Linked DNA regions of Homo sapiens: region 1 is linked to region 2. Evidence: fine-mapped expression QTL. Tissue or cell type: whole blood. Region 2 holds a variant in brackets; the other region holds the start of a gene. All regions are shown on one strand. Distances are from middle to middle.

Region 1 (5,347 bases), 170 kb before region 2:
GCAACTCTCCTGCCTCAGCTTCCCGAGTAGCTGGGATTACAGGCACGCGTCACCATGCCTGGCTAATTTTTTGTATATTTAGTAGAGACGGGGTTTCACCATGTTGTGCAGGTTGGTCTCAAACTCCTGACGCCAAGTGATCCACCCGCCTGGGCCTCCCAGAGTGCTGGGATTTACAGGCATGAGCCACCACGCCCGGCCTTTGGGGGGTTTTGTTTGAGTGTTTTATGATGGCAGAGGTAAGTTTGACTCTGATAGCAAGGAATCCATAGACAGGGAAGGATGGAGTTTGGCGGCGGGCACTGACAGTGAATGATGGCCTGAGATGAGGAGTGGGCAGGGGGGCAGAGCCCTGTGGTAATGGAGGGAGGGGTGGTGTGAGAGGTGTAAGATGGGGGCTTGGTGCTCCCATCTGATAGCTTCTATTTGCTCTCTGAGGAGCAGCCAATTATCTCAGAGACACTGGAAGTGGGGTGAGAGGTTCGAGGAGAGTGCAGACTGCAAGACAGCTGACCAGAAATCAGCAGGCTGGGCGGTAGGGAGGGGCATCCATCCATCTGAGACACTGAGCCACTGTGGATGGTTGTTCCCAAGGGCCTGGTGGAAGCATGACAGTGGAGAGAGTGCGACGCAGGGTCCCCAGAGTCTCAGAGAGAGTGGAGAGTGCGGTGCAGGGTCCCTAGAGTCTCTCCGAAGAGAGCCAGCCCTGGGCTCAAGCACTAGCCCAGACTTGCCCCGGGCCCCTGCCAGCCTGCACACAAGCTCAGTGGTGTGGTAGTGTGGTGCTGAGGACCTTTTTGGGTACAAGTGACAGAAACCAACTTGAGCCAGCTGGGGCAAAAAGGAGGATTTCTGGCAGGGCACAGTTTCTCACACCTGTAATCCCAACACTTTTTGAGGCAGATGCAGGAGGATCATTTGAGGACAGGAGTTCAAGACAAGCCTAGGTAACTTATCAAGACCCTGTCTCTACAAAAAAATTAAATTTTAAAAAGATGATTTCTCAACCTGTGAAAACCAACAGTGGGAGAGGAGAGGCGTAGCGTGGCCTGTGCCTGAGGGCAGGGAGGGGACCCTGGTGGGGCCTCTCAGTTTGATTCCATTCATTCTCTTGGGCTGGCTCCTGCCCATGGATGGAGACTGGATGCCAGTCATTTGGCCAGTTCTTGCAGCAGCCAAACTCATTTAAAAACAGACCTTCAGGGCCAGGCGCGGTGGCTCACACCTGTAATGCCAGCACTTTGGGAGGCCGAGATGGGCGGATCACGAGGTCAGGAGATCGAGACCATCCTGGCTAACACAGTGAAACCCTGTCGCTACTAAAAATACAAAAAATTAGCTGGGCGTGGTGGCAGGTGCTTGTAGTCCCAGCTACTCGGGAGGCTGAGGCAGGAGAATGATGTGAACCTGGGAGGCGGAGTTTGCAGTGAGCCAAGATCACGCCACTGTACTCCAGCCTGGGCGACAGAGCGAGACTCTGTCTCAAAACAAACAAACAAAAACAAACAAAAAACAAAAAACAGACCTTCGGGCTGGGGGCGGTGGCTCATGCCTGTAATCCCAGCACTTTGGGACGCCATGGTGGGTGGATGGCCTGAGGTCAGGAGTTCAAGACCAGCCTGGCCAACATGGTGAAACCCCCTCTCTACTAAAATACAAAAATTAGCCGGGCATGGTGGTGCACACCTGTAATCCCAGCTACGCGGGAAGCTGAGGCGGGAGAATTGCTTGAACCCAGGAGACGGACGTTCCAGTGAGCCAAGATGGTGTCACTGCACTTCAGCCTGGGTGACGGATTGAGACTCTGCCTCAAAAACAAAACAAAACATAACAAAAAACAGACCTTGGCCTGCTGTGCTCAGAGGGGTTTCCCTGCTGCACCAGGCTGGCTCCTGCACCTTCTCTCCCAGCATGTTCTGCTCTGGGCTCATGCTCATCCCTGAGCCACTTCAGGGGTGGCCCTGGCCAGCCCTGCCCTTGAGAGGGGTGGGCACTGTCAGGGATCCTGGGGGATGCAGCTTTCCCAGAGCCCCCTGCTCCGTGGCCTCATGTGCCTCACACGCTTAGAACATTTGCTCTTTACAGGGGGACATGAGCGTGCCGTTTTTAAGCTGTGTTAAATGTCTCACTTGGCCTAGATGGGGGCTCTTCAGCCTGGGACCCCAAGGGCAGGGCCTGAATTCTCTCTCTGTTCCCCATCGCCAGGCTGGCAGCCCCTGAGGTGATGGCCCTGCGCCTCCTCTGACTTCTAGTTTGGGGGGCCCGGTAGGCAGCGCCTAGGCTTCTCCCGCCTTTCTCCCGCTGGACAGAGAGGGGCGGGGGACGAGGAGTCTGGGGACCCGATCCCCAGATTGGGACGGCCCAGGGGTGGGGTTCGGGCTCCTGTGCGGGGAGTCCCAACGGCGAGGGCAGCTGTGGTCCTGGCCCATGCCTCCCGCCGACACCACAGCCGACCCGGGTCAGGGCGTCAGACCCGCCGGAGCCGTAGTCCAGGTGCCCGGCCCGAGGGGCGGTGCTCGGGCCCCAGAGTGGTCAGCGATGGGCGGGGCGCTGCTCTCGGGAGCCGCCCTCCCACCCTCTGGACCAATGGAGATGCGCGGTTGCAGGCCCCGCCCGCTCAGGGCTTGACGACAGCGCGCAGGCGCACGGCGCGCCCGGGCGGGCCGGCTGGCTGGGAAGATGGCGGCGGGAACCTGGGCCGCCGCCGCCGCCGCCGCCGCCGCCGCGGAGCGAACCAGGGGTGTCCGGGGTGCGCGGTCCAGGGCCGGGGCCGGGCCATGAGCGCGCCGTCCTCGAGTCCCCGAGCCGCGGAGCCCGCCCGCGCCCCTCGGGCCGCCCCGCGTCCCTCGCCATGGCGCGGCTCGCGGACTACTTCGTGCTGGTGGCGTTCGGGCCGCACCCGCGCGGTGAGTGCCGAGGCCAAGCGCTGAGGGCCGGGGGCCGAGGGTCGAGTGCTGAGGGCCAGGGGCTGGGTCTGAGGGTCGAGGGCCGGGGGCTGGGGGCCGAGGGCTGGGGGCTGGGTCGGGAGGCCGAGGACTGAGGGCCGGGCGCTGAGGGCCGAGGACCGGGGGCTGGGCGCTGAGGGCCGGGGTCGGGGGAGCCGAGGACTGAGGGCCGGGGCCGGGGGCCGGGCGGGGACTGAAGGCCAGGGCCGACCGGACAGCCCGTGGGGAGAATGGGCGTCCGCTGGGGGCGGCGTGGCCGCGCGGGCCTGGTGGCGGCAGGGAGAGAAGGCTGGGCCCGGCCTGCCCGGCCTCCTTGGGGTGGGACGGGCTCTCTCCTTGGCCAGCTGCGGGCGGCTGTGGCTCTAGTGGCTCCAGGGGCGCGGACCCGCGGCTCGCCAGCCCGCCTCTGACCTTGGTGCTCCGTCTGAAGCCCCCGGCGGTCTTGGCGGGGTGCAAAGAGGGGGTGGAGTTCGGGTTTGGTGCATGGAGAAGCGGTGTTTGATTTGAAACTGGGAGGATTTGAGGAGGAAGCGTCGAGAGTAGAGAGAAGAGCATTCCTGGCGACTCGCCTGACGGTCCAGGCCCTGCACGCCAAGCCCTGGGTGGGGTATCAGCGTGGCGGTCGGTGCCCATGCCCAGGAGGTCTGTGTGTGGGGTCAGCGCCCGTGTCTGAGAGCTCTTCAGCCCAGGAGGTAGGAGAAAACGGAGCCTGACGATGACATCAGCAACAGCCTGGAGACAGCAGCGTTGGCGAGCGTGCTTGGTGTGCCAGGCCCCGCACAGCCCTTTGTGTACATGATCTCACCTCTTCCTCCCAGCAGCCCACCGGGGTTGCCCTGGTGTTGCCCCCATCTGTAGAGAAGTTAGGCGCGGATAAGCTGACTGCCTGGCCTGAGCCGGCTCAGAGAGGCTGGGACTGGCACTCAGGCTGTCAGATCCCAGCTGCAGACTGGCAGTGTGTGGGGATGGCTGTGTGGTCAGGCAGGGGCTGGATCTTGAGCCTGGAGGTGGGATTGAGCTTGCCTTCCCAGTTACCCTGTTTTTTGTCAGTCCAGTTGTCACTGTCCCCACCAAGGACCTGGAGTTCTCTCTTTTTTGTGTTTCTTCTGCTGGACACCCCCCTACACTTCCTGAAGCCTCTTTAGCATCTTCTTCGTCTCCAGCCCCTCCTCAGTGCCCTCTTACTCAGCACACACTCCTCTCTGCTCATGTCTATCCAAGTGTGTGTCTTATGGCACCGTCAGTCATGAGCATCTGTCTTTTTCTTTAGAGAGGGAGTTCTCGCTTGCTAGGACCACATAGTCCTCATCCCCACTGTGCAGGTTGGCTGTCAATGTTGTCTTGACCCACAGAGGGAGCTGTCTGCACCGAGGCACCTATGAGGGGCATGGAGGAGGCCTTACCACCTGGGGCAGAGGGTGCCTGAGGATCCAGGGAAGCAAGGCTGGCTGAGGGCTGTCTTGGCGTGAGGGGCCTTGGGCTGAGGGCTGGGGCGGGGGCTACAGGAACAGCTGATAATGACCCTGATGATCCTGAGGGCAGTGTGGAGAGGGTTTGGGTTGGTAGAGACTGCAGGCAAAGGCCAGGTGGGAGGCGTGGTGGCCGTGGGGTGAGGAGTTGAAGGTAGGCAGAGAGAAGAGGCAGAGTGGGCTCCACAACAAGCTGGCTGTGACGTGTGTGCTCACTGCTGGAGCCACACGTAGTGCAGGCACCTGTTTGTGTGTGTCCTTTGCGCAGGACAGGGTAGAAGGCTGGAGCCCAAGGTGCCCCCCCTTCCCCTAAGTGACCGGAAGGAGTGATAAGTGGTCCACTGCAGTAGGGTTGGAGGACCGTGGAGCCCTGTACCCACTACCTTCTGGGGTTGAGCTGGTCAGCTGCTTGCTGGCCTTGCAGCCCCAGGCACCCCTTAGAAGGACTTGTTCATTCTTGAGGGGAACAAGGCTATAGACTGGGACCCTGGTCATGGGCTGAGGGCAGAGCCAGGTACCAGGGCCGGTGGGAGCTGGGGGAAGAAGCAGAGGAGTGTGGCGTGGGGGTCACTTGTCTCTGCTTTGCCCCTTGATAGCCTTGTGACTTCGAGCCAGTTGTTTGGCTCTCTGTGCCTCAGTTTCCTCATCTGGGGATGGAGTGAGTCATGCTAACCTCCCAGGCTGCCGTGAGGATGCAGCGAATGCACAGGTGTGAAGCAGTAGCACACAGGAGGCCCTGGAAATGATGAGTTTCTTTCATTAGTGACTGAGCAGCAGGTGTGTGAACTCTCTAGGCACAGACACAACAGGCACTTCTGAGTGGGTAGAGGATCCTCTCTGTTCTGTCAGGCTAGGACTTCAGGGCGGGATGCAGGGTCTCTTGGGTTGGGGATTAGGATTGGCGGATAGCTTGTCTTGGCCTGGATCTGGACA
Region 2 (5,714 bases):
GATGAGGTGGTGAGCTGCTCAGAATTCACCCAGTGGCCAGCAAGTGGCCCCCCAGCCTTGACCTCCCTTCTCTGAGGCAGATCCAGGTTCTCTGGGGGTGGGAGATTCAGTAGGGCTGGGACTGGCCACAGCCCCTCCCTCCCTCAGGGGTAGTGGCTGTTTGTGTTTGGGGTGGGGCTGTGGGTGGGGTGGGGCTGGGTCTCTGACTAATTACACGATGGGGAGGGTGGGTCAGAGCCTTGGCTGGTGGGGGGTGCTCAGGCTCTGGGGCCCCGGGGAGGCAGCTGCCCTAGCTTCCCTCTTTCTGGTCGAGGTTCCTCCACCTTCTTCCTTTCCGTGGTTTCACATCCCTTGACACAGGGCCTGCTTCTTCCCATACCCCTGGATTGTAAGGACCCCTGCCTTTCTCTGCCTACCAGGGAAGGACCCTGCACTGTTCTGGGCTCCCCCAGCCACAGGTGTGGCCTCAAGCCAGGCCCTGACACAGTGGCCCTCCTGGCTCAGAAGCCTTCTCTCTGAAGACCAAGCGTGTGAAGGGATTGGCTGGGCCCCTCCCGTCTGGCCCTGAACACTGGCACCCCGCACCCCCCCAGTGGATCCACCCTGCCCTGTGAGATTCATGAACCTGTGACAGTGACTGGCCCCAGGCCCAGTGGTGCCGGGGATGGTGGGACAGGCTGCCCCTGGTGGTACTGCAGGTTTGCCCCACCCCCGGGGATGTCTGTCTGGGGAGGAGCCTGGGGCTGGCCTGGCTGTGGAGCTGGGGGTTCTGTTTCGCACAGTCCCGCCTCTGCAGCCCAGATCCTGGAGCCCTTCACACCCAGAGGCCAGCCCACACCGTGGCCCGCTATGGTTGGTGGCCTTCCCTGGGGGTAGCCCCTAAGGCCACACCTGAGCTGCCTCATGTCCCAGGCTAGGTGAGGGAGGAGACTGCCCTGGGCTGGGATCAGGGCGCCTGGGGGCAGGTCCAGCTCTCTTCCTCAGCCCCCTAAGGTCTCCTGGCTTCTGAAAGCCAATAGTTCCTCATTCCAGTGCCAGCTGAGTCCCGGCCCAGGCCTGGGGCAGGAGAGGGAGGTGCTGCCCCAGTTCAGCCACCAGCTCTGCCAGCAGGGTCCCAGCAGCAGCAGCATCAGAGGCAGGGACTGGGCTCCTGGGGGTAGGGCCCCGGCCCCTCTGGCACAGCTGGTCAGCAGCTTCCATGGGGGGCCCTGTGTGGAGACACAGTGTCCAGCACCGATTTCTGGGCCTGATGCTGCCCCAGCTGAGTCCCGCAGCAAGCGCAAGAGAGAGAAGTGCTTGGTGTCCACCTCTGAGAAGGCCTCCTGTGTGAACACGGCCCCCTGAGGGGCCAGGCAAGGGCGTCTGCTCCTGTGGCTGGGACGGTTCCTGCCCACGAGCCTTGTGTAGGGCTGCGGCTCTCTTCCCAGGTGACCTTCTGTTGTGGTCTGGGGCCCCCGAGCCAGCATGCCACCTGCTCAGAGACAGATTGGGCCCCCTGTCAGATTGGCGTCTGGGGGCACTGTCTGCTCCTTCCAGGCAGCTTTGAGGACTTCTCAGAGGAGGAACCCCCCTGCCCTGCTGGTCCAAAGTGGGGTGCTGAAGGCCGAGGCAGTTTCCAGGGGGCTATGCCTCAGGCTGCGTGGGTGGCTGTGGTAGGAGCGTGCTCTGTGATTGTCACTGCATTTGCCTGGGGTCCATGCTCTGTCCTCAGCTGGGGTCTGGCTTTGAACCTAGGTGAGTTCTGGGGCTCTGAGGACAGGCCAGAAGCAGGAGTGTGGGGGGGTCTCTCCTGGGGGAAGCAAGGGAGGCCTGGGCCTGTGTGACTCAGACGTGGTAGGGTGGCATGGGAGCCACAGCTTGGGGGGATGGCGGGGGGCTTGAGGGTAATCCAAGTATTTCAGGGACCCAGCCATGGAGAGTGGGGTTTGAGGACCAGCAGGAGGTGAGGACTCTGTGGATCCCAGCCCTGTCAGGTGTGTTTTCAGAGCTGGGGCCTGCTTTGGAGGAGATGGAGGGCACAGAACACTGCTGAGCCCAGGCCCTGTGCCCAGCCTTGCTCCAGCCTTACCGGCTTGACACCAGGGCCTCCCTCCCACCAGCGAGGGGGAGAAGCTATTTTAAGTGGAGCCAGCAGTTGACAGGGGCAAGGGGCAGGTGGTGGGAGGGAGGTGCTCCAGCATGGCCCCCCCCACTCCCTCTCAGCCTCAGAGATTGGCCAGGGGAGCTGAGGGGCTTGGCCTCCCCACTCCTATGTTGGCACCGAGCCTGATCTGGTGACCACCCTGAGGGACTTCAGGAGAAAAGGATGTTAGGGAGGAGGGCGTGAAGGTGGGGCGCCCCAGGCAGGCCGCCCAGGCCCAGCAAAGCTCGCTGGAGGGTCCCCCAGTTCCACATCTAGACCTGGGGCCCAGTGGCTCTCGACCAGGCCCTGTGGGGTTTGAAGTCCTCAGCTCCACCATGAGCAGAGCAAGCCTCCGCGTGGAGCAAGGGGCTGGACCTGGCCTCCAGGGGCACCCACCTCCCCACACAGCTCCAGCCACGGGCATCACCTCCCACTCACTGTCCTGCCCCCACTCTGAGATGGGCATTTCCTCACTGGGAAATCCCTGTCCCTCTGGCCTCCCAAAGCCCTGAGTGTTTGCCCCTGTGGGGCCCAGCCCACACCCTGGGCTGCCTCACCCTTGGCCTGGACCCAGGTCCTGCCCAACACCCTGTGCCTCACCAGCCCCCAGCTCATCCTGGGCAGACGCAGCCCCTCTCCCCTGCTGAGACGGCCCTGCCCCCACCCCACTTCCCCATGCCACACATGGCCCCTCCCTCGGGGCTCCAGGCAGCGCTGGGTTCTGAGAGCCCCACTGCCCCTCTTAGCCCAAGTGCCCCGGCCTGAGGCTTCTCTCCCAGGCTCTTTGTACTGGGGACGAGTTCTGGGTGTTGGGGTGAGACCCTGTTGGCAGGGCTTTTCCGGCAGCACCCAGCCATGTGTGTCTGCACATGTGTGGTCATGTGTGCAAGTGGTGTCTGGCACACAGGCTTGGCGCGGTGCCCCAAGCTAATTGTGGGGTTCAGCGGTGATGGGCGAGGCGGGGCTGGGGTGACCGCTGAGGCGCTGACAGGCTGACGGGGAGATTACAGGCCTTGCTTACTGCTCACTGGCTGGGGCCTCACCCGTCCACCCCCCAACGCCCACCCCGGGGGTGAGAAGGGGGCTGTGGGCGGGGGCTGGTCTTGAGCCAGCTGCATCCAGGCAGGACCTGGTCTCTGAGCAGCCGGCTGCTGCGGGGTTGAGCTGGAAAGGGGGAGATGCGTGGGGGCCACTCAGAGGAGAGCCTGCAGGTGGGGCTGGGC[A/C]CCGGCGGGCCGGGAGGCCTCCTTTCAGGAGAGACTCCAAGTGACTGAGCCCCAGAATCCCACGAGAGTCCCTCCGTGGCCGCCTGCTGTCTGACCGCATGTCCTGTCCTGATGAGTTGGTGGTTCCTGCTGTAGCCATCGGCCTCGTGTGCCCCGAGCGCCTGGCGGTGCCCACCCCTCCCACAGGAGGTCCTCAGGAAGCACGGAGACATCGGTAGGTTCATTGCGCTGCCCAGCTTTCTGACCCGAAGGACCACGGTGTAGCAAGAGGGGGCTGCAGCTGTGCCCAGGTTGGACAGGATGGGGTCTGGGACCCCGAAAGGGGTGGTTGAGGAGAGAGGTGGTTCTGCAGGCCTGGTGCGTGTGGGGACAGGGCGCCGTAGCCAACTGGATCCCACCTTCTGTCTGAGGGCTGGGGAGGACCATCCTCCAGATGCGCCAGTGGGCCGTGGCCAGAGAGGAGGCTGAGGAGGGCCTCACAACTGTGTGTAGGATGGGAGGGCAGCCTGGGGCCCCAGTCTAGGGACGCACCATATACAGGGGCTGCACTTGGTGCAGAGGCGGAGAGGGGGCTGGGGCAGGCCCCTTGGGCATGGCCAGGTGAGCTCAGGGGGTGCCTGAGGGCCAGGGCTAGATACAGAGGCCCTGGGTACCAGGTGGCCTGGGTGTGTCAGGAGGTGTGGACCAGTGGGGGCTGTGACTAACTCGGCTGGAGCAAGTGACAGGAGGAGCTGGGGCTTCATGGGGCACCCCCAGGATCCTGGGCTGGTGACCCCATCACTGCCACCAGCCAGGGTGACTTTTCCTGCTGGGACCCAGAGCCCAGACTGCAGGGGAGGCTGGCCCTAAGTAGGAACCCCACCCTGAAACCAGGCTGGCGGGGAAGGGGTGCGACGGCCTCCACCTGGGAGGGGTCCTCAGCCGAGAGTCCAGCGGGGACCGCTGTAGACGCTGAAGCGAGGCTCAGGCCTCCACATCAGTCTGTCCCTGGAGCCCCGCCCCGCCCCGCCCCGCCCCAGCTCCTAGGTCGGGTTGTGCCGGGAGCGTTCGGCCTTTGCCTCGGGTGAGTCTGGCCTTGACCCTGGGTCCGGAGTCCTGCGGGAGGCTGCTCCGGGCAGGGTCGTGCATGATTGGCAGCTGGGCCGGGAGGGGCCGAGCCCTGAGACCGACCGGGGGCACGGGCGGAGCCACCATCGGCGGGGCGGAGCTGCTCCCCGCGCCCCTTCCACGGCTCGGAGGACTTAGGTAATGGCCGGCTGTGCGATCCGATGTGCCCGACGCCAGGTGAGCGCCCCGCGGGGACGACGTCTCCTGCGCTCGTGTGACTGTCGCCGCCGCCGTCATTGTTACTCGGGTCAGACTCCCACCCGCCCGCGCGTCCTGGGCCCCCGGCCTGGTGAGGTTTGTCCCAGAGGCGGCCACGTGCTCCCTCCAGGTGCGCGAGGCCGAGGGGCGGACGGGGCGCCGGAGTCCCCGGGAGGGCGCGGGCGGTGGCCGTGGAGCTTGGGCTCGCGGGGGGCAGTGGGCGGCGCCGAGGAGGCGCGGGCCTAGTCCCTGCGCTTCCTGGCCCCGGGCGCGCTTTGCCCCTGGCTCCCGGGCAACCGTTCTGCGCCCTCCGGGGAGTCTGGCGGTGCCGGCGCCGGGGGAGGGGCTGTGCCACCTGGGTCGGCCTGCGAGGAATAGTCCAGGGCGCTCCACACAGGCCGGGTGCCCGCCTTTGGCTCTGGCCGGGTACCGGGCTCGCAGACCCACCCAGGAGACACCGCCCCCCGCCTCCCGGGCTGAACTCTGACCCGGGTCACCGGTGGGTGGGGCTGGGTGGCGGGGCCGCCGGTCTCGCCCTCGCCGGGTCTCCCGCGCGCTCTCCACCCAGTCCCTCCCCGCGCCTACCCACGGGCGCGGCGCTGCGGGAAGGGGCGGCCGGGGTCCTTGCCGACCCCCCAGCCCCACGCCCCGCGGCACCCCCCTCGCGCTTGTTTTGAAAACAGCGGAGGCTGGGATTCGCCGGCGCGTCTGTTTTGTTTCCTCTGATGTGTTTAGCGCTCTGGGATAATTGCAGATTTGCGTGTGTCGCTAGCTTTGGCCCGGCCCCCTGGCTGCTGGCTGCGGGGCCTCCGGGGCCTCCGTGGCTTTTCTGTGACGCCTGTCGCCCCGTTCCGGGACAGCCACTCTCAGACGCGCCTTGGCCTGTGCTTGGGGCAGCCTATCGCTCACTTGGTCCGAGGCTGCTTCCCCCGCCCCCGCACCGGGCCCCCCCCCCACCCCACGCAGGGCCTGTGTCCACCCCAATCCTTTGAGCCCTGGAGGGCCGCACAGCCCTAGGACCTCTGCCTTCTCCACCGCCCATGTCCTAGGTGCTCATGCCACCC

The links. PIP is the estimated chance that this variant, and not a neighbour inherited with it, causes the effect.
Region 1: SBF1 starts here. The variant in region 2 is fine-mapped to the expression of SBF1 in whole blood (TOPMed, PIP above 0.99).

The regions. Positions count from the first base shown.
Region 1 is chr22:50,472,345-50,477,691 of GRCh38, reverse strand. It overlaps SBF1 (SET binding factor 1), which reads left to right and starts at 2,657. Exons shown (of 41, transcript NM_002972.4): 1 at 2,657-2,906. The coding sequence starts at 2,852. RefSeq lists enhancers at 1,495-2,404, 3,315-4,224, 4,225-5,136 and silencers at 2,501-2,705, 2,286-2,745, 3,166-3,295.
Region 2 is chr22:50,299,192-50,304,905 of GRCh38, reverse strand. All of the region lies in intron 1 of PLXNB2 (plexin B2), which reads left to right. Among named protein-coding and RNA genes, the nearest start is that of PLXNB2, 5.6 kb to the left of the region's middle. RefSeq lists a silencer at 3,166-3,215 and enhancers at 3,353-3,909, 3,910-4,466. The variant A/C (reference allele first, on the strand shown) is at 3,346.